Linked DNA regions of Homo sapiens: region 2 is linked to region 1. The links come from fine-mapping of genetic effects on gene expression. Tissue or cell type: CD4 T cells. Region 1 holds a variant in brackets; the other region holds the start of a gene. All regions are shown on one strand. Distances are between the middles of the regions.

Region 1 (8,104 bases):
GAGAATAGTTGCCATTAACTTAGTCCATTCAACAGGGAAACTGGGCCGGGCGCGGTGGCTCACGCCTGTAATCCCAGCACTTTGGGAGGCCAAGGCGGGCGGATCAATAGGTCAGGAGATCGAGACCATCCTGGCTAACACGGTGAAACCCTGACTCTACTAAAAATACCAAAAATTAGCCGAGCGTGGTGGCGGGCGCCTGTAGTCCCAGCTACTTGGGAGGCTGAGGCAGGAGAATGGCGTGAACCCGGAAAGCGGAGGTTGCAGTGAGCCGAGATCGCCCCACTGCACTCCAGCCTGGGCAACAGAGCGAGACTCCATCTCAAAAAAAAAAAAAAAAACAGGGAAACTGAAGCACAAAGCAGGTCCACCACAGGGTCTGAACGTAGACAGGCTGACTCCACAGTGGGCCTGTCTTAGGCAGATTTGTGCACTGGGCTGCCAGGTATCATTTCATTTAAAGAAAGGGGTCAGCTGGCCAGGCGCTGTGGCTCACGCCTGTAATCCCAGCATTTTGGGAGGCCAAGGCGGGCGGATCACGAGGTCAGAAGATCGAGATCATCCTGGCTAACATGGTGAAACCCCGTCTCTACTAAAAATACAAAAATTAGCTGGGCGTGGTGGCGGGCGCCAGCTACTCGGGAGGCTGAGGCAGGAGAATGGTGTGAACCTGGGAGGCGGAGTTTGCAGTGAGCCAAGATCACGCCACTGCACTCCAGCCTGGGCGACAGAGCAAGACTCCGTCTCAAAACAGAAAGAAAGGAAAGAAAGAGGTCAGCATCTAAATGAAAGTGTGAACTGCAGGCTGCCCACTGCACAGATGGGGAAACTGAGGCCTAGAGGGGCGGCCAGACCAGCTCCCCTCCTTCAGAGGTCACCCATCTCAGGCTCTCATAGCCTCTCTGGTCCCAGTGACTTCCTCAGGATCAGGACCTTAGAACTAACAGGGTACAAAAATCAAGTCCAATTCTCTACTGCAGATGGGGAAACACAGGCCCAGAGGCAAGGCCTCCACAGACCATGCCCCAACCCACGGGCCTGCCCCAACATCCCTCCCAAAGTGCTGGCCACAGCCAGCCACTCTCAGCCCAGTTCCCGCGTACCCCTCATGCCGAGTGACAGCATCCAGACCAGACACTGCCTGGGGGAGGGAGAGTCCAGGACCAGAGGACACAGCCCCGTGACAGTCAAGCCTCGAGCTTTGAGGCCAGAGAGTCAGTCCCTGGTAGGGCCCTGTGCACTTTCCTCTTCCTGTGAAATGGGGCCATGACCCTGACATTTCCCCACGAGGCACTGAGCAGGAGAACCAGGCAAACCTGAGTGGGAGAACTGACAGCACGCTGCCCCCGGCCCTGAGCACCAAACCTCTCCCCGCTTCTGGCCAGGCTCGCTTGAAGGCTCCCTCCCCCAGGAGGTCACCTGGCAGGAAGTAAACTCCAGGGTTCTTTTTTTTTCCCCCCGAGACAAAATCTCACTCTGTTGCCCAGGCTGGAGTGGCACCATCTCGGCTCACTGCAACCTCCGTCTCCCAGGTTCAAGAGATTCTCCTGCCTCAGCCTCCCCAGTAGCTGGGATTACAGACGTGCGCCACCATGCCCGGCTAATTTTTGTATTTTTAGTAGAGACAGGGTTTCGCCATGTTGGCCAGGCTGGTCTCAAACTCCAGAGCCCATCTTGGCCTCCCAAAGTACTGGGATTACAGGTGTGAGCTACCACGCCTGGCCAACTCCAGGGTTCTTATCTGGGGCTTTCCCAGCTTCGTGGAAGGACTGAGGCCTGGTGAGAGAAGGGGCTGGCCTTAAGTACCCCAGTGTCCTGGCGTCACAGCTCCTCTTGGGCCTCAGCTTCCATGGCCATCCCAGGGGGACACAGCAGGGTATGTGAGGCTCAGGGACATGAAAACTTCCTATTTCCAAGGCCACACCCTGCACCCAGGCCCCTGAACCCCTGAGACTTCATGACAGCCCTGGGTGTCCACCCAGAAAAACATGCACTGTGTTTGTAGCTCATATCCGTGGGTCTGCAGGTGAGTCACACCCTTATCTTCAAGTTAAAAACAAGAGCAGCAAATATAATAATAAGAAGAAGCCCTGCAGGTATTATCTTAAATCTCAAAGCAATCCTATTGAACAGATACAATTATTCCCACTTTACAAACAAGGAAACTGAGGCTCAGAGAGGTTAAGTAATTTACCCAAGGTCACACAGCTACCAAGTAGTGGGGCTGCAATAGAAACCCAGCAGTTGATTCCAGTCCATAGGCCTGTGCCAGTCATTGTTATGAGCCTTTTGCAACTACTGTCTTCACAATTCCCCTAAGAGATGGGGAAAACCAAGGTGCACAGCTGGGATCCAAACCCAGGCCTGTCTGACAGCAAAGCACTGTGTCTGGACTTTGGAGTTAGGCTGCCTGGGTTCAAATGCCAGGTCTACTCAAGTCTCCTCCTTACTTGCTGTCTGACCCTGGACAAGTCACCTGGCCTCTCTGTGCCTCAGCTTCCATACCTGTGAAGTGGGTAAGAATGCTGACTTCACAGGGTGGTGAAAGTTAAATGCAATAAGGCACGTGGTCGACCAGCCACAGCGAGCAGTCTGCAGAGGGTTGTTCTTATTACACTTTAGTGAGCACTGCCGGCTGCTGACATCCAGGCCACAGGAGGAAACTGGTGGGAGCAGCCAGGGACTCCGGGCGCCCACTGCTGTGGCTGCGCTAGAGCCATGCTTTCCAGTTCACAAAACCCACTACCTCCCGTCTCACACGGAGCGGTGAAGGGCAGGGGTGGGGGACGGGGGTGCAAGTTGTCCCAGCTGGGGACAGAGGGCCCAGGACCACAGGCTGGAACACCCCACCTGCCACAGGGAAGAACCCCACAGACGAATACCTGGAGGGCATGATGAGCGAGGCCCCGGGGCCCATCAACTTCACCATGTTCCTCACCATGTTTGGGGAGAAGCTGAACGGCACGGACCCCGAGGATGTGATTCGCAACGCCTTTGCCTGCTTCGACGAGGAAGCCTCAGGTCCGTGGCGCCCCCTACCACCACTCTGCATGCAAGTGGAACAGGGCCCAGGCATTCAGTGCCTCTGCCCCTAAGGGCCAGAACAGACATCACCCATCTCCCAGGTTCTGTCACCAGAACTATAAAAGCCAGGCCACCTCCTTATTGTCGCCGCAAAGGCTAGGCCAGAACAGCCCATGCCCCAAGACTCCTGCCTTCGTGATCTCCCCCGCTGGCCCAATGCACATTCTCCATCTGTTTTAGACCTTTCCAGAAATCAAACCATTTCATGCCTTTCTTGCCAAGAAGGTATAGAAACTGGCCCC[C/G]CTCCTCGGATCTCCTAACGGATATTCCATCCCTCAGCTCATTTTTCCCAGGGACATGTCAGGGTGATGATGGCCATGGTAACATGGCCATGGGCCCGCACGGGCCTGACTACCTTCACGGTCCCTCACTGCAATGGCATACGTTCATCCCTGTTTTCTAGATTAAACAGGCACACGGAGGTTAAGGACCTTGCCCAAAGTCACATAGCTAGGGAGAATGGGAATCAGCACTGCAACTCAGGCAGTGGAACTCCAGAGCTCACGCTTAAAACAGGGCACACCCAACACCATCTGTGTGCACAGCCTCAAGTTCCCCAAGTGACACCTCGGAGACAGTCCCACTGCACAACTCCTCCCCTCAGGACCCTGGCACCCCTTCACGTGGGATCCGACACCCCTTCACGTGCACCCCCACACCCCTCCTGCCACGTCCTCATTCCTCAGACTGACCAGAGACTAAGATTGTATCTTCCCAGCCCCTCTAGGTCTGCAAGAGCTGCCAGGGGGCTGAGGGATGGGGCTGCTGTGTATGTCTCAGCCCAAGTTCCTGCTCTCACCCACCCTGCCCCTGCCCGCAGGTTTCATCCATGAGGACCACCTCCGGGAGCTGCTCACCACCATGGGTGACCGCTTCACAGATGAGGAAGTGGACGAGATGTACCGGGAGGCACCCATTGATAAGAAAGGCAACTTCAACTACGTGGAGTTCACCCGCATCCTCAAACATGGCGCCAAGGATAAAGACGACTAGGCCACCCCAGCCCCCTGACACCCCAGCCCCCGCCAGTCACCCCTCCCCGCACACACCCGTCCATACCAGCTCCCTGCCCATGACCCTCGCTCAGGGATCCCCCTTTGAGGGGTTAGGGTCCCAGTTCCCAGTGGAAGAAACAGGCCAGGAGAAGTGCGTGCCGAGCTGAGGCAGATGTTCCCACAGTGACCCCAGAGCCCTGGGCTATAGTCTCTGACCCCTCCAAGGAAAGACCACCTTCTGGGGACATGGGCTGGAGGGCAGGACCTAGAGGCACCAAGGGAAGGCCCCATTCCGGGGCTGTTCCCCGAGGAGGAAGGGAAGGGGCTCTGTGTGCCCCCCAGGAGGAAGAGGCCCTGAGTCCTGGGATCAGACACCCCTTCACGTGTATCCCCACACAAATGCAAGCTCACCAAGGTCCCCTCTCAGTCCCCTTCCCTACACCCTGACCGGCCACTGCCGCACACCCACCCAGAGCACGCCACCCGCCATGGGAGTGTGCTCAGGAGTCGCGGGCAGCGTGGACATCTGTCCCAGAGGGGGCAGAATCTCCAATAGAGGACTGAGCACTGCTTCTGGTCTGTGTGTCTGTGGCTGGGGTGAAGTAAGGGGACCCCGGGCCTGAAACCCTCTCCCACCTTCTCCTGCCATCTCCAGTTACTGCCCTGCTCCTCCCACCCTGGCCCAGGGAAGGACTGGGTGTCCTCCGGCCATATGGTCCCTGAAGCCTCTAGGGACCAGAGTCCCTAGTAAGTGGGCTCTGTGCTCAGCTGAGACCAGCAGGGGACAGGGGACGGAGGGAATGGGCCTCATGGCCTTCTCAGGGCTTGTGGGAAAGGGAGGACCATGGGAATCACCACAGCCAATCCCGTGGAGGGTTCCAGGCCTCTTGGGGGGCAGAGGTCAGGCCACACAGCCCTCAGGACTAAAGCTCCGGGTTCCAGAAGAACAGGGAGGCTCCAACAGTGATGAGGCAGGCGTCCCAGCAGCTCAGGGTTGGAGGTGGGAATGAGGGGTTTCCCAGCCCCAGGCAGGTGGAGGGCGAGTTCAGCCCCAGGACCAACAGCATGGGGGCCACAGCTTTCCATGTCCCTGTGTACGCAGGGCAGGCAGGGCCGGGACCCCTGCTACTGGTGGATGATGGGGACACTGATGGCAGTGCCTGGGGCCTAAGAGGGGCAGAAAGAGCGCTGAATGACTGAGCAGAGAGTCCAGAGGGGCATGGACTGCCTGGGTCACCCAATAGGCCTAGGGAAGAGTGAGGGCCGGACCCACCCCACCTGACCCCAGCGAGTGGACCCAGCTTGGTCCTGAGGCCTTCTCCAGAGGTCACCCAGCGCAGGCAGCCGCAGCACTCAGCAAAGGTCCCAGATCAGGGCCAAGGGGGAGCTGAGCACCAGGGGACCCTGTGCCTGACCAGGAGGCCCTAACCTCCTGCAGGCCTCAACGCCAGGCCCTGCTCAGAGCTCGGCTGAAACTCCTCATCCTGGCTCCAAACAGAGGCCCAAAAGTCCCTGGTATCAACTCCAGAAGGGGCGAGACCCGAACAAGTTCCAAACCAGGCCCAAATAGTATCCCAAACTCAGTCCCAAACACATTCTCACCCCCGGCAGCAGGCTGCAGGCCTCCAGCTACACACACGGCCCTGGGCAACTCTCAGTCTGGCCACCCATTCGATGCTGCCAGCCCCAAGGGTGTGGGAGGGGGGTCTCAGAGTGTCCCAGGGTACTGGCCACACATGCCCGACACCAGGGTCATAAGGTCCTCTCAGCAGAGCCACTGCAGCACCAAAGGCATTTCTGGAAGGAGGCAAGGACGCGTCATCTAGATGTCAAGCCCCAGCGTGCGATTCTGTCACAGTTCACCCCACCTTCACCCCGAGACGGAAGACGGAAGAGCTTCGCACACAGGCGGGAAGAGGTCAGGACCAGTCCAGCCTCACTGGCTTCAGAACTGGCCTGGGGGCTACCTTGACCCACAGGAAGGGAAGAGGAACGTGCTCTGGGCAGGGCAAGGCAGGACCTGCAGCACCCACAGACCAGCAGTAAAGGACCCCCGGAACTTTCCAAGTCTAGCACAAAACCCAGAAGCCACAAAGGAAAATACTGGCAGATTTAAATGCATGAAGTCAACATTCTTTTTGTAGAGCTAAAGAAACCATAAGCAAAATTAAAAGCCAAATGCATTCTGGGAGGAAATACCTGCAGCATATTTAACAAAACAAGAGTTAACACTAATCTATATAAAGCTTCAGTAATTGAATCAGAAAAAGACAACGCCGTAGGAAAAAAATGGTAACATGAAAAGGAATCTCAGAAGAAATGCATATACTTATTTTTTTCTTTTTTTTTTGAGACAGAGTCTCGCTCTTTCTCCCAGGCTGGAGTGCAGTGGCGTGATCTCGGCTCACTGCAACCTCCGCCTCCCGGGTTCAAGTGATTCTCCTGCCTCAACCTCCCAAGTAGCTGGGACTACAGGTGTGCGCCACCACGCCCAGCTAATTTTTGTATATTTAGTAGAGACAGGGTTTCACCATGTTCGCCAGATGGTCTCCATCTCTTGACCTTGTGATCCACCCACCTTAGCCTCCCAAAGTGCTGGGATTACAGGGGTGGGCCACCACGCCCGGCCAAAATACATACACTTAATAAGAACATTTTAAATACTCACCAAATACATTTTTAAGTGCTCAACATCATTGTAAAACTGTAAAATTTTCTATTTTTTCCTAGTATTTGTCTAGCTTTTTCAGACTGGGTCTTTCTGTTGCTCAGGCTGGAGTGCAGTGGTGTGATCATAGGTCCCTGCAGCCTAGAACTCCTGGGCTCAAGCAATTCTCCCACCTCAGCCTCCTGAGCAGCTGCTACTACAGACCTGTGCCACCACGCCTGACTAATTTTTTATTTTTTGTAGAGAGAGGATCTTGCTATGTTGCCCAGGCTGGTGTCAAACTCCTGGGCTCAAGCAATCCTCCCACCTTGGCCTCTCAAAGTGGTGAGATTACAAGTGTGAACCACCACACCTGGCCTTAATTTTTTAATTTTTGTGGTTTTTCTCTTTTGAGACAGAGTTTCACTCTTGTTGCCCATGCTGGAGTGCAATGGCACGATCTCAGCTCACGGCAACCTCCCAGGTTCAAGCGATTCTCCTGCCTCAGCCTCCCGAGTAGCTGGGATCACAGGCAGCCGCCACCACGCCTGGATAACTTTTTGTATTTTTAGTAGAGAGGGGGTTTCACTATGTTGGCCAGGCTGGTCTCGAACTCCTGACATCAGGTGATCCACCTGCCTTGGCCTCCCAAAGTGCTAGGATTACAGGCATGTGCCACTGCACCTAGCCAATTTTTAAATTTTTGGTAGAGATGGGGTCTCGCTTTGTTGCCTGGGCTGGCCTCAAACTCTTGGCCTCAAGTGATCCTTCTGCCTCAGCCTCCCAAGTAGCTAAGACTACAAACACATACCACCACACCTGACAGAGTCCTTTTTTTAAATTCCTCCAAAGGCTAGCACTTTTAAAACATTAGAAATTCCATTTATTTTCTGAAAATTTTTGTGTTTCCTTATCTTTCTGGCAGCCTCATTAGACCTTATAATAGAATCAAAATGAATCTTAAACTTTTTTTTTTGAGACTCAGTTTCACTCTGTCACCCAGAATGGAGTACAGTGGTGTGATCTCAGTTCACTGCAACCTCCGCCTCCCAAGTTCAAGTGATTCTCCTGCCTCAGCTCCCCAAGTAGCTGGGATTACAGGCACGCACCACCATGTTCAGCTAATTTTGTATTTTTAGTAGAGCTGGGGTTTCACCATGTTGGTCAGGCTGGCCTTGAACTCCTGACCTCAGGTGATCTACCCACCTCTGCCTCCCAAAGTGCTTGGGATTACAGGCGTGAGCCACAGCAACCGGCCTAGATCTTAAAATTTAAGAGACATTATAATTTAATTTGATATACTATGGTGGTAGAAAAACATTTCAAACTCATATAGATACAGAAACTTGGAAGCTTCAGTTCTACAGTCTTTCATACA
Region 2 (8,104 bases), 810 kb before region 1:
AAAGGCCTAAGATAATGAAAGCCACCTTTAGAAGTACTTAAGTACCTGTTCCATCACTTCCAAAAGGGCCTCTGAGCAGCAAGTTGCAGAAATAATTCACAGCTTTGACTCCTTCGGCACTTTAGGGCAAACAATACTTTCCATGGCCTAGTTATCACCTAATTTAACTCTTTCTACCTTTTAAGATCAATGGATATATAACAGTTTTATCAGTAAGATAACCAAATATCAAACCAAAGTTAACAAATTTAAAACAAGACAACCTCTAATACAGAACTTGTCACCAGATTGTCATGATGGACTTGGAGGGGAAGGTATCTGAAACTATATTCTGAAATCTAAGCAAAAAAATCCACAGTTCCTCCAAGAGTTTGTCTCAAAAGGCAAAGAACCAATTTTCTAAAAGCAGCAAAGAAAAGCTTCAGAAGAGAATTTTGTATACTTTAGCCACAGGAACACAACTTAAGGTCTAAAACCACAAAAAAGCTCACCACCCTCCCCCAAGCCCCTTCTTAAAACTCACTTTTTGCTACGTTCTTCATGGCCGTTGGCACTGCTCAACTTGTTCTCATCCTAAGCAGGGTTGATAGAAGAACATCATGAGGACGAAGTGGTAACATTTCAAGTTGTCAAAGGGTAAAGGGAACAGGAATAAGAAAATACAAAACAATTTTAAAACTAATTATTTACTTATAGTTTAACATGGAAGGCTATAAAAAAATTTAGATGGGTATGTGTTTAACCACTTTGTTGCTTACATTTAAGTCATCAAGATACAAAAATAAAAAAATTTTCCATATTAACATGTTAAATTTTACTTTCTTATATAGTTTAGATATTAAAAGTTATCCAGATTTACAATGTTGAAGTGGTTAAATATAATTTCCATAAAACATGAAGTCCTGTTTTGAGTTTTATTCCATGTGCTATGGTCCCTTTGGTCAGTACCATGGCTCTATTTCTGCCTAAGCCCCAAGTGGCCATGCTAGCAGCCAGCCACTATCGATTTCCTGTGACCGATGCCATTCCTGAGATCTTCGCCCATTTCCGTTGGAGGGTTGGGACTGTAAGAGCTTGATGCCACCTCTGTCACACATCTCGCCCTGAAGCAAACAGGGATTCACACTGCTTTAGTAATGTTGACTCCCAAGAACCCAAGAAAGTCAATTAATAATCCACCAAGTCCAGCCTAAACATTTCCTACTTCCATACCTGTTTACATGGAATTACATCCATGTTAAAAAAAACTAAGACACAAGAATCTTAACATTAAAACAGAAAGTAGCTCTTCAAGAGTCTAAGCATTACAAAATTACATACACTATTTAAATCTATCAAGAATTCATCCAAATTGGTACCACATGGTCGTGCTATACAATCCAAAACAAATGTATTATTTTTAAAAGGTTTAGTGAAATGTTTATTTTAAAGTTTGATTACATCAGCTATAGGAGTAAAGTGCTAACTTACAAAGCTTACAGTTTGTGACACCAGTGATAATGCATGCATACTGCTATTTTCACCACCAACTGGTGAAACAATGAAAAGACAGTTTACTTTTACTGAGATACCGAAATGAGTCAAAGACTATATTAGCCAATATAATTCCTTTGTTTTTAGTGTGAAATACTATGGTAGGGCCTAATTAAAAATAAAAACAATATGGAGAACAGTAAAACAGTCATCAAGTGACTCTAAGCTTGTATTTACTCTAAGCTTGTATTAAGCTTGTATTGACTCTACTGCCTCTTGTATTTTTTTTTTTTAATTTCTATTCAGGGATCCAAGAATTTTAGTAATTATTAACTGAGCAGCAGATTGCCACTGGACTGTTTTAAGATTTACTATCACCAGTCTTACATAGATACATAAATTTTAAAATCTCACCCATTTCTTCTTATAAGACTGTTAGAAGATTTAACTTGCCACAGACTGGTCATGCTTTGTTATTCTTGGACCCCTGCTTTTTCCCAAACCACTACATTCACCTTTTTGCTATACCAAACTGGAGGTGGTAATTCTTAGTTGAGTCATTTTACCTAGGGGACCACGGTACAGCGATAAGTCACTCAATTACTACCTTATGATTGACAGTTCACACTGGAATCAAAGGTGAATTCATGGGAGTAGAGGTGAGATATCGTTAGGCAAGTCTACAAAGAGAGATAGATGGGCATTTATTCATCACGCTGAAGTGAAACTACTGCACAATATTATTACATCAATAGCATATATTTACTTTTGTAAGTTACACGTAATGCATCTCTGATAAGATAAATCAAGAGGGCTCCGGGGAGGTTAGTTTACATTTCAGCAGTAGTTTCGTGAATAATGCTAAATTAAGAAATATATAAACCTCACCGACATGTTTTTTCTCACCTTCTTGTAAGGAGCCTCAAGCATTGCTTCAATATCAATATCGTCTGCCATTTTCTCTAAACGCCTAGGAAGAGAACAAGACAATTTCTTGAGTAAACATTTCTCTTACAATGTGAAACAAGTTTCACTCTTGTTGCCTATATCGTCTAACATTTTCTCTAAACGCCTAGGAAAAGAACAAGACGATTCCGTGAGTAAACATTTTTCTTTTTTTTTTTTTTTTTTTTTGAGACGGAGTTTCGCTCTAGTTGCCCAGGCTGAAGTGCAGTAGCGCGATCTCGGCTCACTGCAAGCTCCGCCTCCCAGGTTCCAGCGATCCTACCACCTCACCTCCCGAATAGCTGGGATCACAGGCGCCTGCCACCACGCCCGGCTAATTTTTGTATTTTTGGTAGAGACGGGGTTTCACCATGTTGATGAGGTTGGTCTCGAACTCCTAACCTCAAGTGATCCGCCTGCCTCTGCCTCCCAAACTGCTGGGATTACAGGCGTGAGCCACCGCGCCCGGCCTGGTAAACGTTTTTCAAATCGACTGAATTTTTCTTCTCAGCCGACACACTCGAAAACTTAAGAAAAACCTCCAAAAGCCCTACAATTAATGACTAAAGTGACATGCACTTTAACCAGGTTTGGCTTACGTAAGTAAATCCAAAACGCCTCTTACACGAAACACACGAAAATGAAGACTTCAATATCCAATATTTAAAACTCTGCTGTCAACTCCAAAAACAGAAACTGGGAGACCCGAACGAGAGCGCCTCTTTCCGGGCAAAAACCCGCGCTGCCATTTTAGGGGCAAAGAGAAACTCCCTCCATTGGGAGGGGTTATGAGCCAAGGCAGCGTTCAACTGGCGCCATGTTGGGAGGTCGCGGCCGGCCCAGGCCTCGAAGGAGACAGGTCACCATTCTACCGCGGCCTCTCGGGGGTCCCTACCGCCCCAAGAATCCAGACTATACCCGACTGGAAAATAAGGGCGCGGTCACTGAAACAGGGCCGATTTCTCGAAAACCACCCCCCACCCCGGTCGCTAAAGACCTCCAAAAGCGCCCCTCAGCCCAAAATGGAGCCAAACCTCGAGAAAGCTGAGATAATACGCGGGTCCGCAACGCCCCGTACCTGTTCCGGCCTTCGGGCGCCTGTGGTGCTCGTGTTCGGGAAGAGATTGCTGCTGCTGCTGCTGCTGCTGCCGCCGCCGCCGCTTCTGTTGCTACTGTTAAGCCCCTAGGCCCAGGCCGCGGAACCGCCCAGCCCGAATATCGGGTTCCAAGGACGGCTAGGCCCGAGAGAATCTAAAAAAAACAATGGAATTAGAGAAGCCCACGCGGGAGAGCAGGACGGCGGCTTCGGCAGCTCAGGATCCACCCCTGCGACAGCGTCGACAAGCTCCCTGAAATGGCGGCCGCTGCTTCCCTGTACTCACATTCACCAGCACACATACACACACACAAACACACGGGGCCTCACAGAGCCCTCAGCACGGGCTCTCGCGAGAAGCTGCCCCAAGCTCCAAATTTGAGCGGCCGAAGTATCGCGAGACCTAAGTATGGCTCCGGCGACCGTAGCCCAATCTCGCGCAATGATTGCGCCACAGATATTCCCATCCCCCATTCAGTGAGGCGCCTTTCACTCCCCCTCCGCGTAAGCACCCAAATCTCGCGAGACAGAGCGGGTCTCTAGGGCAAAGACAGTTGGTAGGCTGCCTGTCAATCTTTCAGAGAGCTCTTCGCTGAGTGGAGCTCAGCGGTCACCTCCCCCTCGTGGCGCCTCCTCACGGCCATCTGAAGATTCCTCCGGCACAGCCGATCGCCCCCGCTCCGGCCTCCCACACAGATGGCTGTCAAGGTCGCCATAAGGCAACCTAGTCCTTATGGCGATAGGATAAAACGGCCATATTCAGATTATCCGCTGAGGGTGGAGAGGAAGTGGAAAAGTGTATCAGAAGGCCAGAAGAAGAGATCTTTAGGGGTAGGGGGAGAGGGGGAGATAATAAAAATAGATTTCCCTGTCATTTGGAGCCAATGGCGCGGCCTCCACTGTCGAGCTTTGAAACAACCTTGGAAATAGTGGAGAAAAGCAAAAAAAAGGTGGAAAAAATAAACTCTTGCTTCCCTTGGCATGGGATCAGTTTTGTGCCCCGAATTTAATCAGCTCTTGTGTCAGGGTTGCTACCGTTCCTTCAAAAATGTTCCCCTTCCTGAATATTACTGGACGATTTGGTGAAAAAATAAGACACCCCCCCAACAAAAAAAAAAAGGCCCCCTTCCCCCTGGGACCTGGCTCCTCTCCCCTGAAGTCTTCTAGATGCCAGGTAATTAGAGTATGAATTAGCCATTTGTTCTTTGGTCAGTACTGTGTGAGGTTTCCTCCTAGATGCTGGGAAAAAAAACTGGAAAGAAGTCTTCAAAGCAAAAATCTTACCCTCTAATCTTAACAGTCTAATGATTGAGGGCAGAAAAGATTGGAAATGAGACGCCTTGATTAGTGTAACTAGCTGCTGCAACACTGTGTGACCTTGGACAAGCAAATTAACCTCTCAGAGGGGATCTTTCATTTCCTGATTTAAAAGAGGACGTACTTAGTAGCTAGTCTAAGCTACTTGAGACTGAGGAAGGCAGGTAATGCTCAGTACTGAATTTTTAGAGGTTAGCAGGGCATGTCTGCCCAAGTGGACCCTCAGTAAATTAATGAATGAAGGCTCAGAAGGGCTATAGTGAAGATTAAATGATATAATGTCTGTAAAACGCCTGGTAAATATTTGATCTTCAAAACAGCTAACTTCTGTTTCTGCTAAACAAAATTATTTAGAGCAAATATAGATGTTAAGTGGTTTTGCCTCTCAGGTTAACTTTACACACAGGTTAGGATTTATCTTAGAGGATTATTAATAACAGTTATTTTGTAGTTAGAATACTCCCTTAATCCTTTTTCTGAAAATTCAGATCCTCTTTTTATTTTATTTCTGAGACAGTCTCGCTCTGGAGGCTGGGCGCAGTGGCTCATGCATCTAATCCCAGCACTTTGGGAGGCCGACGCGGGTGGACCGCCTGAGGTCAGGAGTTCAAGACCTGACCAACATGGCGAAACCCTGTCTCTACTAAAAATAAAAAAAAAACTAGGTGGCAGGCGCCTGCAATTCCCAGCTACTCGGGAGGCTGAGGCAGGAGAATCACTTGAACCTGGGAGGCAGAGGTTGCAGTGAGCTGAGATCATGCCATTGCACTCCAGCCTGGGTGACAGAGATCGAGACTCCATCTCAAAAAAAAAAGAAAGAAAAAGAAAGAAAAGAAAACTGTCACAGGAAATTGAAGCATAATATGTCAGAAATAAAGCAAGCTAACCTTTGCTATCTCTTCCTGCCCCTCGGTAATTCCAGTATTATGACTAGTGCAAAATGAAAGCATGAAGATGGCACTTGGTTTTTCTTGTTTGTTTAGGAACATGACATGACAGAATTTGACCTTAACCGCTAGACTTCTTGTTTGGGAAGAGGAAGGATTTAAGCTCTAAGTCGCTTGATGATTTAAGGTCCCTTAAATAGTTTTCTGCTCAAGGACCATCAGAGGCAATATGGCAACTTAGCAGATCATCAAGAAAAGCCGTTTGGAAAAATCAAGTTTCTGAAACAAGTATTTTTTATGTTTAAAAGAAAATATCCCCAGGCATGGCGGCTCATGGCCTGTTATCCCAGCACTTTGAGAGGCCAAGGCAGGAGGATTGCTTGAGTCCAGGAGTTTGAGACCAGCCTGGACAATATAGCAAGACCCTGTCTCTACAAAAAATTTAAAATTAGCCAGACGTGGTGATGCATGTCTGTAGTTCCAACTACTCAGGAGGCTGAGATGGGAGGATAGCTTGGGCCCAGGACTTCAAGACTGCAGTCAGCTAGAATCACGTGCCACTTCACCCCAGCCTGGGCTGCAGAGCAAGACCCTGTCTCTTAACACAAAAGAAAATATCACGAACATAAGATGCTTCTCATTCACTTTACAAAACTTCACTAACTCTGGTTCATGAACTTTCTATGTAAATTAATTCCCCTTTCATCATTTTGCTTTCAAAAGATGGAGGAATAGAGCTTGAAATAGAGCCAAAAAGGTAATGAATATACTTAGAGAATTTGGCTGAAAACTAAATGTATTTTACCAATGTGGATTTTTAATTTTTTAATTATTAAGGGTACATTTTAAATGTATATGTTTATCAGATACATGTGGTTTGGTTTTGTTTTGTTTTTTGTCCCCAACAATCTACAGCAAGTAGAATTGTTTCGTTTTTTAATTGAGACAGGGTCTCACACTGTCCCACAGGCTGAAGTGCAGTGGCAACATCATAGATTACTGTAACCTTGCATTCCTGGGCTCAAGCAATCCTCCCAGCTCAGCCTCCCAATTAGCTAGAAAAACAAGTGCACATCACCATGCCCAGCTTAATTTTTTAAAAATTTTTTGGGCTGGGTGTGATGACTTACTCCTATAATCCCAGCACTTTGGGAGGCCGAGATAGGTGGATCACCTGAGATTGAGGGTTTGCAACCAGGCTGACCAACATAAAGAAACCCCGTCTCTACTAAAAATACAAAATTAGCCAGGCGTGGTGGCGCATGCCTGTAATCCCATCTATTTGGGAGGCTGGGGCAGGAGAATCACTTGAACCTGAGAGGCGGAGGTTGCAGTGAGCCGAGATCACGCCATTGCACTCCAGCCTGGGCAACAAGAGCGAAACTCTTTCTCAAAAAAAAAATTTTTTTTTGTAGAGATTTGGGCTTCAAATGTGATGTTTTGATAAAGGCATATTATGTGTAATAATCAAATCAGAGTAATTGGGGTAATCCATCACCTCAAGCATTTAACATTTCTTTTCTTTTTTTTTTTTTTTGAGACAGAGTTTCACTCTTGTTGCCCAGGCTGGAGTGCAATGGCGCGTTCTTGGCTCACGCTCTCTCTCTCTCTCTATATATATATATGTGTGTGTGTGTGTGTGTGCATGTGTGTATATATATGTATATATATATATTTTTTTTTTTTTCGAGATGGAGTCTCGCTCTGTCGCCCAAGTTGGAGTGCAATGGCACAATCTCAGCTCACTGCAACCTCCGCCTCCCAGGTTCAAGCAATTCTCCTGCGTCAGCCTCCCAAGTAGCTGGGATTACAGGAGCATGCCACCACACCCGGCTAATTTTTTGTATTTTTGGTAGAGATGGGGTTTCATCATGTTACCCAGGCTGGTCTCGAACTCCTGACCTCAAGGGAATTGCCTGCCTCGGCCTCCCAAAGTGCTGGGATTATAGGCGTGAGCCACCTCGCCCGGCCTTTTTCTTTCTTGAAACAGTGTCACTTTGTCACCCATGCTAGAGTACAGCGGCAAAATCACAGCTTACTGCAGCCTTGACCTCCTGAGCTCAAGAGATCCTCCCATCTCAGCCTCCCAAGTAGCTGGGACTACAAGCACATGCCACCAGGCCCAGGTAATTTTAGTATTTTTTGTAGAGTTGGGTTTTTGCCATGTTGTCCAGGCTGGTCCCCAACTCCTGGCTCAAGGGATCCTCTCCTCTATGCCTCCTTAAGTGCTGGGATTACAGGCGTGAGCCAGCATGCCTGACCCTTTTTTTTTCCCCATATCACTAGGACAATGGGAAACTTAAGCCCATTTCATATAGATGTAATTAATTTTAACACTCATGTGACCTTTGCCTGATTTAGGCAGATGAAATTGTATCTCCCCACC

Direction of the effects. Positions count from the first base shown, and alleles are read on the strand shown. Sizes are in standard deviations (SD) of each study's normalised expression.
As copies of C replace G in region 1, the expression in CD4 T cells of the gene that starts at base 3,816 in region 2 goes up (large effect, 1.4 SD a copy in Kasela 2017).

What was found. PIP is the estimated chance that this variant, and not a neighbour inherited with it, causes the effect.
Region 2: it holds the start of RBM39, and the variant in region 1 is fine-mapped to the expression of RBM39 in CD4 T cells (Kasela 2017, PIP 0.95).

Annotation. Positions count from the first base shown.
Region 1 is chr20:36,545,173-36,553,276 of GRCh38, forward strand. MYL9 (myosin light chain 9) reads left to right here. Exons shown (of 4, transcript NM_006097.5): 3 at 2,860-3,021; 4 at 3,905-6,275. The coding sequence ends at 4,077. All of the region lies in intron 2 of DLGAP4-AS1 (DLGAP4 antisense RNA 1), which reads right to left. Among named protein-coding and RNA genes, the nearest start is that of MYL9, 7.7 kb to the left of the region's middle. RefSeq lists an enhancer at 2,384-3,312. The variant C/G (reference allele first, on the strand shown) is at 3,327.
Region 2 is chr20:35,738,445-35,746,548 of GRCh38, forward strand. RBM39 (RNA binding motif protein 39) reads right to left here and starts at 3,816. Exons shown (of 17, transcript NM_184234.3): 1 at 3,497-3,816; 2 at 2,380-2,443; 3 at 524-573. The coding sequence starts at 2,430. RefSeq lists a silencer at 3,196-3,295 and enhancers at 3,556-3,705, 3,719-4,404, 3,766-3,985, 4,156-4,255.